Linked DNA regions of Homo sapiens: regions 1 and 2 are each reported to be linked to region 3. The links are microRNA targets in miRTarBase. Many come from high-throughput screens and were not tested one by one. Region 3 holds a microRNA gene; each other region holds the end of a gene's coding sequence.
Evidence for each region. The annotated mature microRNA hsa-miR-2114-3p reads CGAGCCUCAAGCAAGGGACUU and lies in region 3 at 2,343-2,363, shown strand. An mRNA with a match to its seed (bases 2 to 7 or 8) in the 3' UTR can be bound and repressed. Matches are read on the target gene's strand: a 7mer-m8 pairs with bases 2 to 8, a 7mer-A1 pairs with bases 2 to 7 and ends in A, and an 8mer does both.

Region 1 (3,000 bases), not on the chromosome of region 3:
CAGGAGCCTGGGGCCCTGACCTGTACCTACCCATGGGCCCTGCAGCTTCAGCACCTGAAATGCTGTTTTATCCTAGGCCGTGTCCTCTGCCTCCATCCCAGGCGTGGGCGGGAGGGCAGGGGCCCACCTTCATCTCTGCCTTGATGGATTTGTCACAGAAGCTCTTGGAGGTGGGGCATGTGGGAGGGGTGTTGAGAGACCAGGGTGTTGGGTGTTGCGGGCCCTTCCCCAGAGAGGGTGTGAAGGCGGGGCCAGGTGCGGATACTGATGCTCTGCCCCTGTGCCCACAGGTGAGAGGCCCTTCGCCTGCAGCTGGCAGGACTGCAACAAGAAGTTCGCGCGCTCCGACGAGCTGGCGCGGCACTACCGCACACACACGGGCGAGAAGAAGTTCAGCTGCCCCATCTGCGAGAAGCGCTTCATGCGCAGCGACCACCTGACCAAGCACGCGCGCCGCCACGCCAACTTCCACCCGGGAATGCTGCAGCGGCGCGGCGGGGGCTCGCGGACCGGCTCCCTCAGCGACTACAGCCGCTCCGACGCCAGCAGCCCCACCATCAGCCCGGCCAGCTCGCCCTGAGCCCGCCACAGCCATGAGCAGCCGCTCCCACCCCCTCGTGAGTCCCTGGCCTTTCCTTTTGTAATAAGAAAGAAGAGAGAGAACTTGATGCAAAGTCCACGAAAAAACAATTTTTTTCACCTCAGGTGTCAAAGTAAATTTGTTAAAAAAACAAAAAAAACACAAAAATTTCAAAAAACACCACCCACCAAATTGCACAATAGATACACCCACAAAGTTGAGATTCAGCGTTGTTGAACCCCCTTTCTCAGGGATGGACACGTTTCACGAGGTCAGTGAGGACACCCCTTCCTGCCGCCTTACTCTGTACATAGATTTGCACTCTGGAGTTTTCTGTTAGGTTCGGGAACACGCTGGGGACAGAGCAGGCCAGCCAGTCTGGTGGAGCTCAGCGTCTGGCTGGCTGGCCAGCCTGTGGGTCTGTTGGGAGCAGATGTGCTCACTGACGTTTGTGCCTCCAGGGCAGATTCCTAAGCAGCTGGCCTGACCTCTTCCTGCCCAGCCCCCAACCCAGTCTCTGGCCTCTGCCCAACGAGCCTGGCTGGGCTTGCAACGCAGCTGATTCTGAGACAGGCCCCTGCAGAGGGATGCCTTAAAGCTGTCCCTGGCTGGAGGAGCACTCCACCTTGGGGATAGTGGAGGGGGCCTTCAGCCCTCTGCACCCTGCCTGCCTCACACCCCGCCTTCAGGAGCCCTCTCCTACGGCGCTAGGGAGCACTGGAAGCAGAGATGCCAGCCCTGGCTGAGCGTAGCACTGCACCGTCCGACCTCCGAGGCAGGGGCCGGGGTCACACCTGCCAGGACTCCGCTTCTCCGTGTCCCAGCAGAAGGCATGCAGGACCCTGTCACTACTATACCTGGGCCTCTGATGGGGAATTCTGGTCTTCTAAAAAGATGTTAGAAATTCCTGGTGGCACATCCAGTTCCGAGTTTGCCCGCACGGGCACTTTTGTTGGAAACAGTGGGCAGGTCATGGGGCCTCCTCATCAGAGGGTCTGTGTGAGCGGCTGTGCATGTGGCAGCGCACCATGCTTCACAGAGACCATTCTGTAGCAAGAGACCGGAACATTGTGACTTGGACCTTTTCAGGAGTGGCGCGGATGTTACAGGAAATGCTGTCGGAGAGCGCGCATTCTATTTCCTCCGCAGGGAATGCCAGATAGAAAGTTGCGGGCAACACTTTTCTCAGACCCACCATGTCCCCAACTCAGACTTAGCAAACCTCCAGCCTCTCCGTTTCCCCTGGACTCCTCCTCCCTTTTCCTCCTGCTTCTCCTTGTCCTGCCTGGAGGCTCCAGGCCACACCCAGCTGGTGGGGCTGCTCCAGTGCCCCATCACCGGCCTTCTCCTGGCAGGAGAGGAGGAGCAGAGAGCTGGGTCCTGGGCTGGGATTCGAGCCCTGGGCGGGGGTCAGTCAAGCCGTGGTCCAGCAAACTCCTCTGCAGATGGCTGGAGTGTTGACCCAGGCTTGTGGCCCAGGTATCACCTTCCCTTCCTCCTGAGAGTTGAGGCCTGTAAATACAAGGGCCCAGGACAGAGTGTGTGCGTGCGTGTGGGTGTGTGCGCGCGTGAGCACACACGCGTGTGTTGGGGGGGGTGGGGGGATTGGGGTGGACTCAGGGTATCTTGCCAGAGATACCTGTTTTGATGAGTACCTATTTTGATGCAAAGGAACGGCCCTGGGACCTCAGAGGGCCACAGATGGGCTTCCTGGGCCTAGCGTGCCTTGGTTGTGGCCATCCTGCTTCTACTCAGCCCTGCCATGCTATGGGGTGCAGCACAAACCCAGGACCCAGGCCTAGCCACTGCCCACAGCTGATGGTCACTGTTTTGGCTGGCTCCAGAGTGGACAGGTACGCTCTGTCCACAGCAGCTGCTCAGGCACAGTATGCCGTCAGGTGCCCGCTTCTTACCACTGTGTGTCAGCTGGGATTGGCCGACAGCGTGGTGGTGACTTCTAGGTAGACCGATGGACCCTAAATTGGGCAGTGGCATTGTTTCTGCTGTGGTGGGAACTGGCAGGGAGAGGGTCACCTCCACTCTGGTTGGATGCGGAGCTGGTCCCTCTGGCTGCCATGCTGTGTTGGGGCTCTCTGACCTCCCTGCTTGCATTGGGTCTGGGAGAGAGAGTGGAATATTTGGTAGGGACCTTGACAGAAGAGAGCCCTGGGTGCTTGTGGTGCAAAGATCTTCATGCCCAGTTCCAAAGTGAGGTCCCTCCCAAAGTTGTTTTCGTGTGAGGCAGAGAAAGCCACACTCTGAATACATTTTATGTCTCAGGAATTCACATTCCAGGTTCAGGAATTTTATTCCAAAGTCCTTTGGTGCACTCACCGTCCACCGTTCCCCAAGGCAGGGAGAGGGAGTGGCCCGTCCCTGGGAGGCTGGCAAAGTGCTCTCCAGGGAGGGGTCAGACGTCC
Region 2 (3,000 bases), not on the chromosome of region 3:
CACCTTGGGAGGAGAGATTTGGAGAATGGTGCTGCCTGGGCCCCTTTGCCCCCACCAAACCGCAGGGGTACCATGGCCCTGACCTGCGTTCAGAGGGCCGAGTCAATGTCACAGGAAGGGGAAGAGACATGTGCCCACAGACCCTGTGGTCATGGAGGGGGTGGAAGATCTCTGGAGGGCAGCAGGGCCACAGCAAGGCTCTGAGGTCCTGAGTCTTCTCCGTCCGTGGACTTAAACTCTGCGTGTTTACAGCTGTTCTGTGCCTGGGTCCAGGCTCTAGTGAGAAATAAACTGCCTTCAGAGCCAGGTGACAGCAAAAGAAATTTTATTCCCATTTTCTAGGGGACAGAAACAGAGCCCAGTGGTGCCTAGCATGTTTCTGGCAAGGGTAGTGAAAAGACCACTTCCTTTTGGGGGAAGTCTTTCAATTAAGAAAAACACACGCAACTCCTGGGGGTGGCTCCACCTGTACCCAGGACAGGGCCTGCCACTCCAGGGGCTCCCAGGCTGGATTTTCCACCAGAGCAGTCTTGGGGGCAGGAGCCTGTTAGAAATGCAGATCCCCAGGGACCTGCAGCGGTCTGGGCAGTACCTCCAACACAGCTGCTTAAGGGGAGGCAGTCCGGCCCTCATCTGGGAGCGCCGTGCTGACGCTGACTGCACGCTAGGGCTCTCGGGGTTGGGTGGACAGGGTTTCTCCGAGAGATGGGCTCCCAGCAGCCAGAGCACACTGTGGGTGTCAAGCTGCTGGTGGGAAGCAGGCTGTTCCCTGAGACCATGACAGGGTGAAGGTGGGAATCACCAGCCCCCACACTCACCAAGAAATGCTTTTGCTACATGCTGGGGCTTTTTTCTTTTTTTGAGAGGGAGTCTCACTCCGTCGCCCAGGCTGGAGTACAGTGGTGAGATCTCGGCTCACTGCAACCTCTGCCTCCCCGGTTCAAGCGATTCTCATGCCTCAGCCTCCTGAGTAGCTGGCATTACAGGCACACACCACCATGCCCAGCTAATTTTTGTATTTTTAGTAGAGATGGGGTTTTGCCATGTTGGCCAGGCTGGTCTCGAACTCTTGACCTCAAGTGATCCACCCACCTTGGCCTCCCAAAGTGCTGGGATAATAGGCATGAGCCACCATGCCCGGCCATGCTGGGGCTTTTCTAAGAACACAAGCACACCGGAGGGTAAGACAAGATTCTGGAGAGGCACAGACCCAGAAAGCCAGGGGCACACAGGAGCCTCGCCAGCGAGGGCGGCACAGGCCATCCATGCGGACCCTCAAATCTCATGTGAAGGCTGCATCAAGGTCAGTGCCAAGAGGAAGCAGAGCAAAGCATGTGACCACCTCTCTGAAGCCATCTTTGTGGACAAATGATGTAGGAACTCAAAAAAATGCAGGCTTGGCTAGGCGAAGTGGCTCATGCCTGCAATCCAAGCACTTTGGGAGGATCGCTTGAGCCCAGGAGTTTGAGACCAGTCTGGACAACATAGCAAGACCTTGTCTCTACAAAAAATAAAAAAATTAGCTGGGCATGGTGGCACATGCCTATAGTTCCTGCTACCTGGGAGGCTGAGGTAGAAGGATCCCTTAAGCCCAGGAGTTCGAGGCTGCAATGAGTTATGATTGCACCACTGCCCTCAAGCTTGGGCAACAGAGACCAACCCTGTCTCAATTAAAAAAAAAAAAAAAAAAGCAACTAACCCCAAACCCAGATCTCTAAAGTATTGGGTGTGGACTAGAGCTCTGGACGGCCTAAAGGAAAGGAATGTGCCGGTTCACAGGGACCCGCGGCTAAGCTCAAGGGTAAAATACAGCTTTACAAAGCATCTTTAGGCTGTTCCTTCCCAAACGTGCTTAGAAGGGAACAGGGAAAGGCGGGTGTGTTTTCTCACTGAGGTTCTTCTAGTGGCTGGAATCTGATAGAGTACCAAGTTGTAGGGATATGGATATATTTTCCCTTTGGCACTCCATAAAGCTAAATGTTGGGCTGAAAAAAGGATGCAGCCTATAAACAAGTATTTTTCCTGAAACCAACTGCATGAGGAAACGCTGCGCTCCCCCTCAGGGAGCAGTTTCTGAAGCCAGCTGAGCACAGCTGGCACTGGCCAGAGGGAGCCCTCCACCCTCCCACCACGTATGCCCACCTGCAAACCTGGGTTCTGAGTCCCCATGCAGGGGACAGACCTGAAAATTCCAGTTTGTGTCCTTTCAGGTCATCGACAGGAATGACAGCCTGGCAAGCTGCAGTGACTGCACACAGCTACCCTGTGAGCTCCACTTGTGTGGGTGCAGGTGGGCGACAGGAGTGTGTGACACAGACAGGCACTCCACCAGGAGGAAACCCACAGCAGACGTCAACCATCGCTTTATTAAGGCTGCGAGTCGGGGGGCTGAGTCATGCACTCCACAGACACCCCCACTGCTCCCAAGGTCCACTTTTGGATGACCCTGAAGGCAGAGACTCCTGAGATCTGGGCCACAATCTAGGGTGAGCCACCCACAGTGCCCTGCTGGACAGGGGGGTATGCGGACTGCACGGGGGGGCCCTCAGCAGGGGTCTTCCTGCCTAGGGTGGGGCTGGCTCCAGTGGGTCCTGGGCTCAGGCAGGGGGGGTGGCAGGGAGGCAGGGACATCCCCCCGCCCTCTGGCCTATGGCTTTGTTGCCCTATTGCCACCAGCGCAGAAGCAATGTGCTATACCGTGAGGTGATGAAGAAGAGCCCCGGGAGGGAGCAGGCAGCTCTGTGCCTGGGGCCTGGCCAGACCTCAGGGGTGCTGTGGCCCTGCTCCTGTTCCCCCTCAGCTCCTCCCAGCAATGGGTCTCCTCCAGTGGAGGTCAGTCACTCAGAAGTGGACCCGCAGCACGTCTTGGCTAGCAACCGGCCGCTGGCAGGCTGTGCACGTCATGGGCAGGGAGCGTTGCTTCTCACCCAGGCAGGGTCGGCACAGGAGGTGGCCGCAGGGCAGCTGGTACACCGGCTCCTTTTTGAAGTAGGGAGAAAA
Region 3 (3,340 bases):
TGTATGCCTTTTAATTTCCTCTTGTGGGCTCCTGAGGGGGCCCAGTAACCGTGCAATTGGTATTCCTCTCCAGCCTTGGAGGATGCGGGCACTCTCTCGGAGATGGCTCCAGGTGGCACAGAGTGCCACCTGCACTCCCAGCTTCCCGATTAACTACTCTGCAGCAGACCTCCACAGGGCGATGAAGGGGAGGTGATAAGCTGGCCCAGCTCTGCCCTGGAGCCCAGGTGGGTCTTCTCCCGCCCGGAGGCAGCAGCGGCAGCATTAGGGAGGTGCGAGTTGACCCTACCTCCTACCTGCTTTGTGCTAAACCAAAACAAAAACCGGTGTCAAAGGGGCTTGGCCCCCTTCAGCAATTGAAGGCATAGAAGTTACACACCGGGCCAATTAGGGAGTGGAAATTTGCATTACAAGAAGACCCTTTGCTTCACAAAAGTAGTTCTCATAAGATTGCAATAGATGGCACCCAGGGGGGTTAAAGATTCAATTTTCAAAACCGAGTTTTGCCCACAACTCTTTCGCAGCACGTTCTGTTGTGGAAAACCAGTCTCCAGACTGACTTTTGACCAGCCTTCCAGCCCCAAGATTTGTTGTTTACCAAAGGATACATGCCATCCTTATACTATCTCATACTCAACCCCCTTCTTTGCTATGCCCGGGGCAATTGCTCCAAAACAGATATGGCTCCTCCCAGGCTGGCACCTGGCTCCCGGAGGTAGTCACAGTGGACAAGTATCTAGGCCTGGGGTGGAGAGTACGAGCTAGACCTGAGTCCCAGTCCTGCTGAGCCATCTCAAGTTGCAGGGCCTGTCCCCTCTTTCAGGCCTGAGTGTCCACATTTATAGAACAAGGGAAGGTTGATAGAAGAATCTCCCAAAGTGTTTTTCATTCTAGGAGTTCATTCCTAGGCATTGCTGGGTGGCCCTGGGGATACTCTTGACCTATGAAGTAAGATAGGGACATTGCCTTAGATAACGCCAATAATAATACACAGGGGAAAATCCAAATGCCTGCGTGCAAGTACTTTAGCCCTTGTACCATTTACAGATGCTGAAGGTGCAGCGGTGGGGATGGCCTGTGTCCCTACAGAAAGCACATCTTACAAGTCACACGCCTCACCATCTAAGTGCTCAGCTTTCTGAAACCTGCTCATTCAGAACATATGAACCTCATGCTGTGGTATTCCAGGTCTCAGCTTGGCAAGCTCAATGATGTTTTCATTCCAATCAGTGCTGAATACAAACAGACCCTTATCCCTAAATTGTGAAATTTAGAGAAAAGTAGAGTCTCAAGGTGCAAAATTTGAACCTCACAAAATTTAACTAAACCGAAGTTTGGGATATAGTAAGAGCTCAAGGAAATGGCTTCTAATTGCTCATTGGGAATAGATTTTTGAGATTAAAACAAATTTTTCAAACCTGTCCAGACTCAGAGGCTTGGGAGTGAACAGTTGTCACTTAACTTTATGGCAGTGGTGGCTGGAAGCTCGCCCACCCTGATTCTTTGTTCTCCCTCCCATAATTGCTCAAACTGAGAGGTCTGTAGGCACCTTAAGGATTCAAAGTGATTTGTGAAAGTTGTAAAGTCCAAGCCTCAACTAGAGAGTTGTTCTTGGAGGTAGGAAGTTTGAGGGACTTAAAATGAACTGGGGGGAAAAAGGCAACAGAGGAAGAGTGAGAACAGAGAGAGAGAAAGGCTCAGAGGAAGGAAGATAGGGGAGGGGGGGAGAGAAGGAGAGAGAGAACGTGAACATTTCCTGGTGATTTTAATTTTCACATCACAAAACACCGCACGTCTGTCAACCGTTATATTTCCTGTGCAGCCTTCTGTGACCACATGGAGTACCTCAGGGAGGGAAGAAAATAGAATTCATTCCTTTCTACCCCCAGCCTGATCTGCCCACAGCTGTTTGGGCACAAAGGAAGGAGGGTAGAGCTCTGGAAAATTGCCAAGAGCGCCTCCTCTCTCCAAGGGGAATGACCAATTTTCACCGCCACTGGAAGGGTGTGAGCTGTCCCAAACTGCCCTCTGGGATTATGCTTACTCGGTTCCACAGGAACATTTAGAGAGACAGAGGTTGCCTTGGGTTATCAGGGCCACAGGCTTCCTGGGTCTGCTTTTGGCACCTAGGATTCCATGAAGAGGGACTGACAGAACCTGAGAGCTGAAAAGCACCTCAAGAAGTCATCGGTCCAGTCTTGCCTCTAAGGACTCTCCATCTCAATCAGCAGGACCCTCACCCAGTCAGCAATGGATCAAACGTCCCAGCTTCTGGGGCCAAAGACAGGCCTCTGCCTCCATGCTCCTAGTCCCTTCCTTGAAGCGGTCGGATAATCACATGACGAGCCTCAAGCAAGGGACTTCAAGCTGGTGGCTTCCAGCAGCTAGCTTCCTGCTTCCGAACCATCATTGCCTCCTATTGAAGTCCTCCCATCCTCCACTCCCACATCTATCCAGGCCCTGGGAAACTTTGCCAAGAAGCAGATGATGGCGTCTGCCTTTGCCTGGGTGATGAGATGACTGGCTTCTGTCCCAGTTCTGCCACTCACCAGATGGATCAGTTTCTCATTGCTGTTATAACAAATTACCACCAACATAGTGGCTTAAAACAATGCAAATTTACTATTATACTTTTGGAGGTCAGAGGTCCAAAACAAATCAGTTTCACTGGCCTAAAATCAAGGTGTCAACAGGGCTGGATGCTTTTGGAGGCTCTGAGGGGAGAATCCATTACTTTGCCTTTTTCAGGTTGGCCACCTGTATTCCTTGGCTCATCACCCCCTCCTCCATCTTCAAAGCACATCGTTTCAATCTCTTTCTTAAGGTATCTTGCGGAGGAGGTCCCAGAGGCACCAAAGGGGTGACAAGCACAGATTGCTTTAACTGCTACTCAGAGAATGACTCTGCGCCAAGCCCTGTGCTGAAGGCTTTACACTCACAATCCTTGATATACACATGGAGCTCTTGTCATCACATCCCTTTTTCTTCTGTCTGTGCCAAATCTCCTTCTGCCTTCCTCTTATAAGGACACTTGTGATTGCATTCACAGCCTTCCCAGATAATCTAGGACAACCTTCTCACTTCAAGATCCTTAACTTAATTACATACACAAAGTCCCTTTTGCCATATAAAGTCATATTCACAGGTTCCAGGGGTTAGGATGTGGACATCTTTGTGGGCCATTATTTAGCCTACCATACCAGTAATAGGTCTTTGGCAAGTAAAGTCACCTCACCTCTCTGAACCTTACTTTCCTCATTTGTTCAGAGGGGAGAAGACTCCTGCCCTGCTGACTTCCTGGGCGCCCTAGGAGGTTCCAGTAAGAGAGTGAATGTGATGA

Region 1: miRTarBase lists KLF13 as a target of hsa-miR-2114-3p. Seed matches in the 3' UTR shown: 7mer-m8 at 1,869-1,875.
Region 2: the mRNA of UBOX5 is a reported target of hsa-miR-2114-3p. Seed matches in the 3' UTR shown: 7mer-m8 at 1,233-1,239.

Annotation. Positions count from the first base shown.
Region 1 is chr15:31,371,720-31,374,719 of GRCh38, forward strand. KLF13 (KLF transcription factor 13) reads left to right here. Exons shown (of 2, transcript NM_015995.4): 2 at 291-3,000. The coding sequence ends at 580. Among named protein-coding and RNA genes, the nearest start is that of KLF13, 46 kb to the left of the region's middle. RefSeq lists an enhancer at 2,111-3,000.
Region 2 is chr20:3,107,265-3,110,264 of GRCh38, forward strand. It overlaps UBOX5 (U-box domain containing 5), which reads right to left. Exons shown (of 5, transcript NM_014948.4): 5 at 309-3,000. The coding sequence ends at 2,842. It overlaps UBOX5-AS1 (UBOX5 antisense RNA 1), which reads left to right. Exons shown (of 7, transcript NR_038395.1): 1 at 1-307; 2 at 2,211-2,486. Among named protein-coding and RNA genes, the nearest start is that of UBOX5-AS1, 1.9 kb to the left of the region's middle.
Region 3 is chrX:150,225,710-150,229,049 of GRCh38, forward strand. MIR2114 (microRNA 2114) reads left to right here and starts at 2,295; the gene lies at 2,295-2,374. RefSeq lists enhancers at 1-144, 145-730.